Linked DNA regions of Homo sapiens. The protein of the gene in region 3 purifies or fractionates together with the protein of the main gene of each other region. This does not show direct contact. Each region holds a gene or a part of one and is shown on either strand. Other genes may lie near its edges.

Region 1 (3,653 bases), on a different chromosome or scaffold from region 3:
TTTCCCGCACTGTAAGTCTGACTGATCTTTTGGTGTTGCTGTTGCAGACACACATACACTTGATGCTTAGGTGGGAGAATAAGGTAGAAACTCTGGGTGATAGAACGCTGTCTTAATCCAGTGTTCCCGCAACCAAAAAATGAGTGTCGGGGCCAGGCATGGTGGTTCAGCCTGTAATCCCAGCACTTTGGGAGGCTGAGGTGGGTAGATCACTGGAGATAAAGAGTTTGAGACCAGCCTGCTACACATAGTGAAACCCCGTCCCTACTAAAAATACAACAATTAGCCGGGCATGGTGGTTCAGGCCTGTAATCCCAGCTACTCGGGAGGCTGAGGCAGGAGAATTACTTGAACCCGGGAGGTGGAGGCTGCAGTGAGCCAAGATTATGCCATCGCGCTCCAGCCTGAGGGATAGAGCAAGACTCTGTCTCAAAAACAAACAAAAAAAGAGTGTCAGACTTGTACATTCTCTCATTGCCTCGTGCCTGATCTGAAGTCTGCACGAAGACCCGCCTTCACGGCTTAGCTGGTAAGCATGTGCTTTGTTTCCTGTCTAGTGTGTACTGTAAGCACGGTCACCTGTGTCCCATCGACACCGGCCTCATCGAGAAGAATATCGAACTCTTCTTTTCTGGTTCAGCAAAACCAATCTATGATGATGACCCATCTCTTGAAGGTAAGGAATAGTCCGGGATTATGTTTGGGGCACACTTTAAAAACAGCCAGGCAGGGTGGCTCACATCTGTAATCCTAGCACTTTGGGGGTCTGAGGCCAGAGGATCACTTGAGCCCGGGAGTTTGAGACGAGCCTGGACAACATAGCAAGAGCCTGCCTCTATTAAAAAAAAATATATAGCATATATATATAGTATACATATATACTTATATATATGTATAAATAAAAAACATACTTATGAAGCAATAGTCAGCTGGAGTTGCTGCTGCCTCTTAAAGTTAGGGTGTGAGACTTTGTGCCAGGAGCAGCTGTAGGCCAAGTCATTGTGATGACTGAGGAGCACCCGACCTGGCTGATGGGATGTCTGCTGAGTGGGCGCTTAGAGCGCCTCCTGGGTTTGGGATGTGAGTCAGAGCCTTTAGTCCATTTCCTTTTTCTGCTCTAGGTGGTGTTAATGGCAAAAATCTTGGCCCCATAAATGAATGGTGGATCACTGGCTTTGATGGAGGTGAAAAGGCCCTCATCGGCTTCAGCACCTGTAAGTGTGTGGCCCATCATAGGCTGGCCGGGGTCTGAAAGGGGCCTTCATGTTCTCCTTCCTGGGGGCTGACGGGGCTCTGGTGGGAATTCTCAGCAGGCTTGCAGAAGGCCATGTGACTGGGAACCTTAGCAGGTTCAGTTGGGGTAGCCTCTTGTGTTAGTTATGACTGGCTCTGGAACTGACTCTCCAGTTGTAAGAGCAGGTCTTGGCCGGATATGGTGGCTCACACCTGTAATCCCAGCACTTTGGGAGGCCGAGTTGGGGGGATCATTTGAGGCCAGGAATTCGAGACCAGCCTAGCCTGGCCAACATGGTGAAACCCCCTCTCTACCAAAAATACAAAAATTAGCCACGCATGGTGGTGCATACCTGTAATCCCAGCTACTTGGGAGGCTATGGCAGGAGAATCACGTGAACCCAGCAGACAGAGGTTGCAGTGAGCCGAGATCACGCCACTGCCCTCCAGCCTGGGTGACGGAGCAAGACTCTGTCCTCCCCTGAAAAAAAAAAAAGAGCAGGTCTTATTCTTGCAACCCAAACCCAGACTGAATTCCAAACACCAGAGATGAGCTCAATGAAGGCCTACTCAGCTAGTCTTCGCTCTCTGGCTGGCTCAGACAGGCTTCTTCAGAACAAGCCAGCTATGATGTGTTGTGCCCTATGTTTCTGACATTTGGGTACGGGATGACTTTTAGACTGTTGGGTGAGTTTGGTAGACTCCTCCATGCCCTGTGGCCACTGTAGGCGCCATCAGATTCCAGCCCCTTTTCCACACCTCCTCTGTTCACCCCAGCATTTGCCGAATACATTCTGATGGATCCCAGTCCCGAGTATGCGCCCATATTTGGGCTGATGCAGGAGAAGATCTACATCAGCAAGATTGTGGTGGAGTTCCTGCAGAGCAATTCCGACTCGACCTATGAGGACCTGATCAACAAGATCGAGGTAAGAGATCGAGGGTCCTCAGCATCCGGGATTCCCACTGGAAACTTGCCTTCAGAACCAGCAGACACTGTTCTTCAGTTGGATTTAGGCCAGTTTGGCTTAAGCATGAGAGAAACCTGTTCTCTTTCAAGACCACGGTTCCTCCTTCTGGCCTCAACTTGAACCGCTTCACAGAGGACTCCCTCCTGCGACACGCGCAGTTTGTGGTGGAGCAGGTGGAGAGTTATGACGAGGCCGGGGACAGTGATGAGCAGCCCATCTTCCTGACACCCTGCATGCGGGACCTGATCAAGCTGGCTGGGGTCACGCTGGGACAGAGGTAAGGATGCGGCAGGGACCAGAGTGAAGACTGGAGACCGGGGAGGGTAGAGCATGGCCCACATCCTCTGTCCCAGTCCTCTGAGATGCTGGAACCTCTCCCGTAGGCGAGCCCAGGCGAGGCGGCAGACCATCAGGCATTCTACCAGGGAGAAGGACAGGGGACCCACGAAAGCCACCACCACCAAGCTGGTCTACCAGATCTTCGATACTTTCTTCGCAGAGCAAATTGAAAAGGATGACAGAGAAGACAAGGAGAACGCCTTTAAGCGCCGGCGATGTGGCGTCTGTGAGGTAACCTCACCTGTGGGTGCTCCCGCTCCCCTAAGGTGGCCCAGCCTCTGGCCTGATCTGAGGACTGCTCCATCTTTCTCTCTGTGGCTTGAGACTCTGGCTGCTCAAATGTGACCCCTGAGACAGAAATTAGTTAGTGGTCTGGGAGGACCCTGCATACTTCATTGAACGTCAATAGGACAGATGTCCACAGAGGCATGCTTGGGTGCTTTGCTGATAATGCCACTGTCCTTAATTGAAGAGCCTGGCTTCTGGGTGGCTCTGCTGTGCCTGCATCTCACAGTCTGAAGGCCCCTGTTGGACTGCTAAAGGGGTATTCACATCTAAGTGGGCACTTTGTCCAGCTTAGATTTGAGGCCCTCAGGAGGCGTCCCTTTCTGTGAGTTTTTAAAATATATGTTTACTTCACTCAGGAGGAACTAACTTCCTAGTCCTATGACCCAAAGACCAGGACTATTTTGATACCTATTACCTGACTTTCTTTTGGATAAAGACTGGCTTCAGGGCTTTGCTTTTGATCCCCGCTGGCATCTCTTAACAGGAGCCTGCATGTCCTCACCATTGTTATTTTGGTTTTATTTTATTTTTCTTGGTTAACACACGTGTGTCCAATGTTTTATAACTTCTAAAATCTTTTTTTTTTTTTTTTAATTTTTTTGAGACAGTCTCTCTCTGTCACCCAGGCTAGAGTGCAGTGGCACCATCTCAGCTCACCGTAACCTCCGCCTCCCGGGTTCAATCAGTTCTCCCACCTCAGCCTCCCGAGTGGCTGGGATTATAGGCACCCGCCACCATACCCGGCTAATTTTTTTTGTATTTTTAGTAGAGATGGGGTTTCACCATGTTGGCCAGGCTGGTCTTAAACTCCTGACCTTAAGT
Region 2 (3,653 bases), on a different chromosome or scaffold from region 3:
TCCTGAACTAAATGCCTCTTAAAGGTCCCACCTCTTAACAGGATTACAGTGGCAACTAAGTTTGCCATTGTTCTCAACTCAAACTTGAGTTTTGAAGGAGATAAACACTGGAATTTTTACTGGAAGTGGGCCCTGATCCAGACCCCAAGAGAGGGTTGTTGGATCTCGCACAAGAATTCGAGAGAGTCGCCAGGCGCGGGGACTCACGCATGTAATCCCAGCACTTTGGGAGGCAGAGGCGAGCGGATCACGAGGTCAGGAGATCAAGATCCTGGCTAACATGGTGAAACTCCATCTCTACTAAAAATACAAAAAAATAGCTGGGTGTGGTGGCCTGCGCCTGTAGTCCCAGCTACTCGGGAGGCTGAGGCAGGAGAATCACTCGAACCCAGGAGGCGGTGGTTGCAGTGAGCCGAGATTGCATCACTGCACTCCAGTCTGGGCGACAAAGCGAGATTCCATCTCAAAAAAAAAAAAAAAAAAAAAAAGGCGAGAGAGTCTATAAAGTGAAAGCAAGTTTATTAAGAAGGTAAAGGAGTAAAGAATGGGGTACTCCATAGGCAGAGGAGCTGCTTGGGCTTGTCCACGAAGGATACCTACAGTTAGTTATTTCTTGATTTTATGCTAAACAATGTGTGATTATTCATAAGTTTTCAGGGAAAGGGGGACCCCTAAGGTTCCTCCCCTTTTTAGACCACATAGGGTAACTTCTTGATGTTGCCATGGCATTTTTAAACTGTCATGGTCTGGTGGGAGTGTCTTTTAGCATGCTAATGCATTATAATTAGCACATAATGAGCAGTGAGGACTAGCAGAAGTCACTCTCCTCTCCATCTTAGTTTTGGTGGGATTTGGCTGGCTTCCTTACTACAACCTGTTTTATCATCACGGTCTTTATGACCTGTATCTTGTGCCCACACCCTATCTCATCCTGTAACTTAGAATGCCTAACCTCCTGGGAATGCAACCCAGTAGGTCTCAGCCTCATTTACCCTCATTTTGCCCCTACTCCAGATGGAGTCACTCTGGTTCAAAAGTCTCTGACAGAACTGTAACAAGAAGTATAATTGTTACTCATTATTATAGCTGTTTGAGGATTAAATGGGATGATAGAAGTAAAGCCTGTAGTACTAAACCTGGTATATAATAAGAACCCATTTAATGTATTCATTTACTCAACAAATATTTATTAAGTAAATTTTTTTTTTTCTTGAGACAGGGTCTTGCCATGTCATTCAGGCTGGAGTGTGGTGGCATGATAGCTCACTGCAGCTTCAACTTCCTGGGCTCAAGTGTTTTTTTTGTTTTCATTTTTATTTATTTATTTATTTTGAGATGGAGTTTTGCTCTTGTCACCCAGGCTGGAATGCAATGGCATGATCTTGGCTCACTGCAACCTCCGCCTCCCAGGTTCGAGTGATTCTCCTGCCTCTGCCTCCCAAGTATCTGGGATTACAGGCGCCCAACACCATTCCTGGCCAATTTTTTTGTATTTTTAGTGGCGATGGGATTTCACCACGTTGGCCAGGCTGGTCTCGAACTCCTGACCTCAGGTATCTACCTGCCTTGGCCTCCCAAAGTGCTGGGATTACAGGCATGAGCCACCATTCCCGGCCTACTTACTATTTTTTTTTTTTTAAATGTTGGATGTATTTCATTCTGTGGTAGTTTCTTTTTTTTTTTTTTTTTTTTTTTTTGAGAGACAGGTCTCACCCTGTTGCCCTGGCTAGAGTGCAGTGGCATGATCACAGCTCACTGCAACTTCCGCCTCCTGAGATCAAGCAATTCTTCTACCACAGCCTCCCAAGTAGCTGAGACTACAGGCGCACACCATCACACCCATCTAATTGTTGTATTTTTTGGTAGAGATGGGGTTTCACTGTGTTGGTCAGGCTGGTCTTGAACTCCTGACCTCAAGTGATCCACCCACCTCGGTCTCCCAAAGTGCTGGGGTTACAGGCGTGAGCCACTGCACTCGACCAGTGGTATCATTTGTTTTGCCGCTCCCCTAATGCTGGATGTTTCCAGCTTTCTACTATTTTTTAAATGTTTCGATGAGAGTTGTTCTCTATGCATGTGCAAGTACTTGTCAGATTATTTCCTTATAATAAATTCCTAGAAGGTGGATTGCTACAAACAAGAAATGTATGTATTTTTGATACTTTTGATTTACATATTCAGAATAATATCCTGAAAGAACATACCAGTTTTCGTCTCACCAGCAGTAAATCTGAGTACTTACAGTTTTTAGTATACAGAGTTGATATATAATGTACCTTTAACTCTTAACAAATCCTGACAAAAAAAGGAGATTGTTCTGTTTATTTAAAAAAAAACTACTTAGTTTTTAACTTTTATCTTTTTCTAGGTTACAGTTCCTCTGAGTCATCTCATCAATGCCTTCCATACACCAAAAAACACTTCTGTTTCTCTCAGTGGAGTGTCAGTTTCTCAAAACCAGCATCGAGATGTAGTTCCTGAGCATGAGGCTCCCAGCAGTGAGGTAAGTCTTTATCCTGGTTGTGTGAGAAAGCCTTTTTGATATACAGTTGACCCTTAAACAAATGAAGGATTAAGGATATTGTCCCTCCCCCGTAGTCAAAAATTTGAGTATAATTTTTGACTCCTGAGAAACTTAACTACTAATACCCTACTATTGACCAGGAAGCCTTACCGATAAAATAAAGGGTCCATTAACATATATTTTGTATATTTTATGTATTGTGTACTGTATTCTTACAATAAAGTAAGATGGAGAAAATGTTATTAAGAAAATCATAAGGAAGAGAAAACATATTTACCATTCATTAAGTAGAAGTGGACCATCATAAAGATCTTCATTATCTTCAAGTTGAGTGGGCTGAGGAGGAAGAGGAGGGGTTGGTTTTTCTGTCTCTGGTGGCAGAGACCGGAGAAAGTCCACGTATCTGTGGATCTGTGCAGCTTTAATCTGTGTTGTTCAAGGATCACCTGAGGTCAGGAGTTCAAGACTAGCCTGACCAATATGGTGAAATCCCATCTCTACTAGAAATACAAAAATTAGCCGGGTGTGGTGGCGTGCGCCTGTAGTCCCAGCTACTCAGGAGGCTGAGACAAGAGAATAGCTTGAGCCTAGGAGGCAGAGGTCGCTGTGAGCCAAGATCGCACCACTGCACTCCAGCCTGGGTGACAACAAGACTCTGTCTCAAAAATAAATAAATAAATAAATATAAAAATGTAATCTCATTTTTTGGTTTAATCTAAAAAAAAACACCTGTTTTTACAGGGAAGTGGAATAGGTAGGGATTTAAGAAGTAAATAAAACTCTTAAAAAAATAAAGGACCAGCAGATTTAGGGAGCAGCTCATACTTCTAGGGCTGAGATAGAGTCAGGAAGAGTTCTCCATCCCCAGGGCTGAGATCCTGACATTGTTGGCGAAGGCATGGCCTTGGCTCACTGAATGGTAGAAAAGTTGCTGTGATGTCATGCCAGGGTAACGTGCTAGAAATCTGGGAAGTCTGCCCTCTAGGATACTGGGAAAAGCTGTTCCTGGGGATGTGTCCTACTAGAGAAGCTGTTACACGAGTGGTGCCAGGGGAAGCTGCTAGGTCCTGCTGGCCATTGTGCACGCCAGGAGCCAGGGTTTGGTGAAACTGCACAATTGACAGGAGCC
Region 3 (3,681 bases):
ATATTACCAATTCTAATCAATGAAACTGTACTGTTCCTTCATGTTATTTTTAAGATGTAAACAATCCTTCAAATGAGAAGGCACACTAGCACTTAAGCACTTTTTCTTTTTTCCTAGAGTGTTTACTAAAACACAGGCACTTTTTCATTTATTTAAAGATAGACTCCTCAGCAGATTATCACAGTGTTCAGTGTTGTTCTCTGTAACTGACATTTTTTTTGTGGTGAAATTCTGCCTTCAACCGGGCGCGGTGACTCACGTCTGTAATCCCAGCACTTTGGGAGGCCAAGGCCAGTGGATTACTTGAGGTCAGGAGTTCAAGACCAGCCTGGCAAACATGGTGAAACCCCGTCTCTACTTAAAATACAAAAATTAGCCAGGCGTAATGGCACACACCTGTAATCCCAGCTACTCGGAAGGCTGAGGCAGGAGAATCGCTTGAACCCGGGAGGCCGAGGTTGCAGTGAACCAAGATCAAGCCACTGCACTCCAGCCTAGGGGACAGAGTGAGACTATCTCAAAAAAAAAAAAAAACAAAACTCTTCCTTCTTCATTTTCAAATCCTTAAACATGCGTTTCTTATCAATAAAAGGACTGTTGTAATGGGTACTGCAAGTTCAACACATTTTTGAGAGTGCCTTACTTTTCTAAGTAGTTTCCCAATTTAGGATACGCATTGGGTGTGTTGAGGTTTCTAAACAGCTTTTCATACTGTTGTGTTAATTTACTACAGTTTCACAGTGTCTTTAATTGGCCTTTATGTACAGTTTTTTGATGTGATGCAGAAGTAGGATGAAGTAAATACCATTTCTTTTTTTAATTAGCCCTACTGCCAATAAAGGGAAAATAAGAGATGCTCATCGACGAATTATGCTTTTAAATCATCCTGACAAAGGTAAGTAGTCATTAAATTCTCGTTGATGTTGTTGGTGTGACCAATAGTTATTAATGGGATAATTTTATCTCAAATTCCTGGCTATTAGAAAGGTAACACTTAAATCTGTAAGTCCTGTCTCCTAGGCTGGAGCCATATATTTTTGGTGTCTTAAAAGAAATTAAGTGAAAACTTTACTTACAGAATGAGCAGATGTAAGTGCTACTATTACTATGTTTTGTGGGTTTTTCTGGCCTACATTTATTATAATTAAAACGTTAAATTTCGTAAAACTAAAATGTAATTTTTCCTTATCCATTTTAGATACCTTGAAACGGAGATTACCTAGATAGAAACTTATGGGATTTATTTATTCGTTTGTGATAGACTTCTATGCAGCCTTGGCTGTGTTGAAGGAAAGCAAGAATTTCTTTGAATACCAAAAAATAGACCACAGAATTCATGTTCTAGTGTTTGTATCCTTTTACTTATACAGGAGAGGGCTTTCATTAATAAAAAGGGTTTTGACATTTTAAACAGGGTTATAATTGTTTGATATCTACTTCACAGTATCTTTTATGAAATTTAGCTTGTTTTATATGGAGGGCTTCTGACTCAGTAGGTCGGCAGTGGAGCCCCATAAATATGCATTTATACTAAATTTCCTGTTATTTCTTGCTGGTCTTAGGACCATACTTTGAGAATCACTCCTCCAGCAGATTCGTAGGAAAGCAGCTGTAGATGACATTGTGAAGGGACAGTAGATAACAGGAAAAGAAAAACTGGACAGAAAAAGGATGTAAAGCAAACTGGGATCTTTCCAGTAAACAGCTCAGAAGCCTCTGAGAATATCATGGTATTAAAATAACATGGTATAATTGATGTTCATTTATGACCTGTAATCATGAATAGGCTAACACCAGTTCAAAGGCATATACATATATATCTAATATATATGATAGAAATCCTATTTCTATCAGTTTAAGCTTTCTAAAAAGGTGTTATTTTTGTAGAAATATCTCCCACGTAAATTACTTCATTTCTCATTGGTCACATATATTACCATATATTTGGTCATCCAGTTGCAGTGTCAGGGTTATTTTTTAAAAATTAAAACACTGTTTCTGCTAAATCTCCCTCAGATAAGCATTGGAGTCCTTGAAACAAGAGTAGCTTTTTACCAAGCAGAAATTGAGAATCCATATTGTAACTGTTCTTTTTTCTTTCTTCCTATAGGAGGATCTCCTTATATAGCAGCCAAAATCAATGAAGCTAAAGATTTACTAGAAGGTCAAGCTAAAAAATGAAGTAAATGTATGATGAATTTTAAGTTCGTATTAGTTTATGTATATGAGTACTAAGTTTTTATAATAAAATGCCTCAGAGCTACAATTTTAAAAAATGATTTAGCACAAGCTAAATCTCAAAGCCTTGGTATAATTTTCTTGTTTAAATTTGGGGATTTTAAATCAGATTATAGTTTAGAATATTTGCGTATTAATTATGGGCAAGCACACACCTTCTGAATAGAAATATTGTTCATTACTCATTTAGCAGATAATTTGGGACCTATGTCTACTTTTCAAGGCAAAGTGAAGATGACAGTCCTTGCTCTCAGGGAGCCCCCACTTTAATGGGAGACTGATAAACTGGTAATTAGACTGTGATAAATAGTATGATGGAAATTAGCTTAAGCTGTTTAAGTAGGGACTCTTCTTATTCGGTGGAAAGGCTGTTCCAGGTACAGGCAACTGGCCTGGCAACTTGGATACTTGGAACCTTGTATTTAAAAGTGAATTTAACCACAACTGAGACCTAAGAAATTGACCTAGGGGTGTGTGTGTGTGTGTATTCTATGTACATATAAACCATTTTTATTTCATGCATTAAAAATAGTATGATAAAGATTTCAGAGTACAGGTCTGGTACAATCACAGTTCATTGCAGCCTCAACCTCCTGGGTTTAAGCAGTCCTCCCGCCTCAGCCTCCCAAAGTACTGGGATTACAGGCATGAGTATTTACATTGTATTCAGCTAGCCCCTTAAAGGTAATGACCATTTATAAATTATTCCTTCAGTTGGCTATTTCTTGACATAATCAAACTTCTGCAATTGTTATGATTAAGCTTAAACCCTGTTAGCAAAACTGAAAACTGAAATGTTCTCAATATCAACATATTTAATTTGGACTCTTTAGAATTTATACACTAATAAATTTAAATGATGTTTAAAGGCAAATTACTTACTGTTTGTCTAACATAAAATATATAAGGATCTTAAGAGGACCTGTATAAAACATCTGGTATAAACTAGTATGTATTTCTCAACAGGAGTATTTCTTATGTGTAGCTCTAAGATGATAAATTATACTACCTACCGTCTAAACTTCCTTAAGTCATCATAAGTTTCTTAATTATTGGAGGATACAAGGACTTTTGAGGTTAAAAAAATAGTGGAGGTAATATTTATCTGCCTTATAAAGTAAAGGTATATCTGCTCTTTGTGTTTTCTATCCAATACCCTCGTTTAAAATCTGATGGAGTCTGTTATGATTTAGTGTATGATGAAACACTAGCTTCTAAGGCTTTTATGCAGGATAAATTATTTCCAGGGACAAGGAGACATGAAAGTACAGCTGGTTCTTGTTTGTGGTAATTCTGTTCTTTAAGGTGGCTATGAACACTGAATTAGCAAATAAGGAACAAGTTCCTAAGAGAAATACAGATTCTGTGACCCTTTGGTCACAATATTGTCTGCCAGTCAGTATATAACCTTGATCGACCTGTTTCTGCTTGAAAACATTCTTT

The links.
Region 1: the proteins of DNAJC19 (region 3) and DNMT1 purify together in Homo sapiens (affinity purification with mass spectrometry, with the first as the bait; one large-scale study listed by BioGRID). This does not show direct contact.
Region 2: the proteins of DNAJC19 (region 3) and YME1L1 purify together in Homo sapiens (affinity purification with mass spectrometry, with the first as the bait; one large-scale study listed by BioGRID). This does not show direct contact.

Annotation. Positions count from the first base shown.
Region 1 is NC_000019.10:10,153,414-10,157,066, reverse strand, and holds part of DNMT1 (DNA (cytosine-5)-methyltransferase 1), read left to right. Parts: intron 1-557; coding exon 558-676; intron 677-1,121; coding exon 1,122-1,214; intron 1,215-2,010; coding exon 2,011-2,162; intron 2,163-2,293; coding exon 2,294-2,481; intron 2,482-2,587; coding exon 2,588-2,774; intron 2,775-3,653. UniProt on the Homo sapiens protein: Methylates CpG residues. Preferentially methylates hemimethylated DNA. Associates with DNA replication sites in S phase maintaining the methylation pattern in the newly synthesized strand, that is essential for epigenetic inheritance.
Region 2 is NC_000010.11:27,147,756-27,151,408, reverse strand, and holds part of YME1L1 (ATP-dependent zinc metalloprotease YME1L1), read left to right. Parts: intron 1-2,368; coding exon 2,369-2,503; intron 2,504-3,653. UniProt on the Homo sapiens protein: ATP-dependent metalloprotease that catalyzes the degradation of folded and unfolded proteins with a suitable degron sequence in the mitochondrial intermembrane region.
Region 3 is NC_000003.12:180,983,140-180,986,820, reverse strand, and holds the end of DNAJC19 (mitochondrial import inner membrane translocase subunit TIM14), read left to right. Parts: intron 1-824; coding exon 825-895; intron 896-2,110; coding exon 2,111-2,181; 3' UTR 2,182-3,112; downstream 3,113-3,681. UniProt on the Homo sapiens protein: Mitochondrial co-chaperone which forms a complex with prohibitins to regulate cardiolipin remodeling.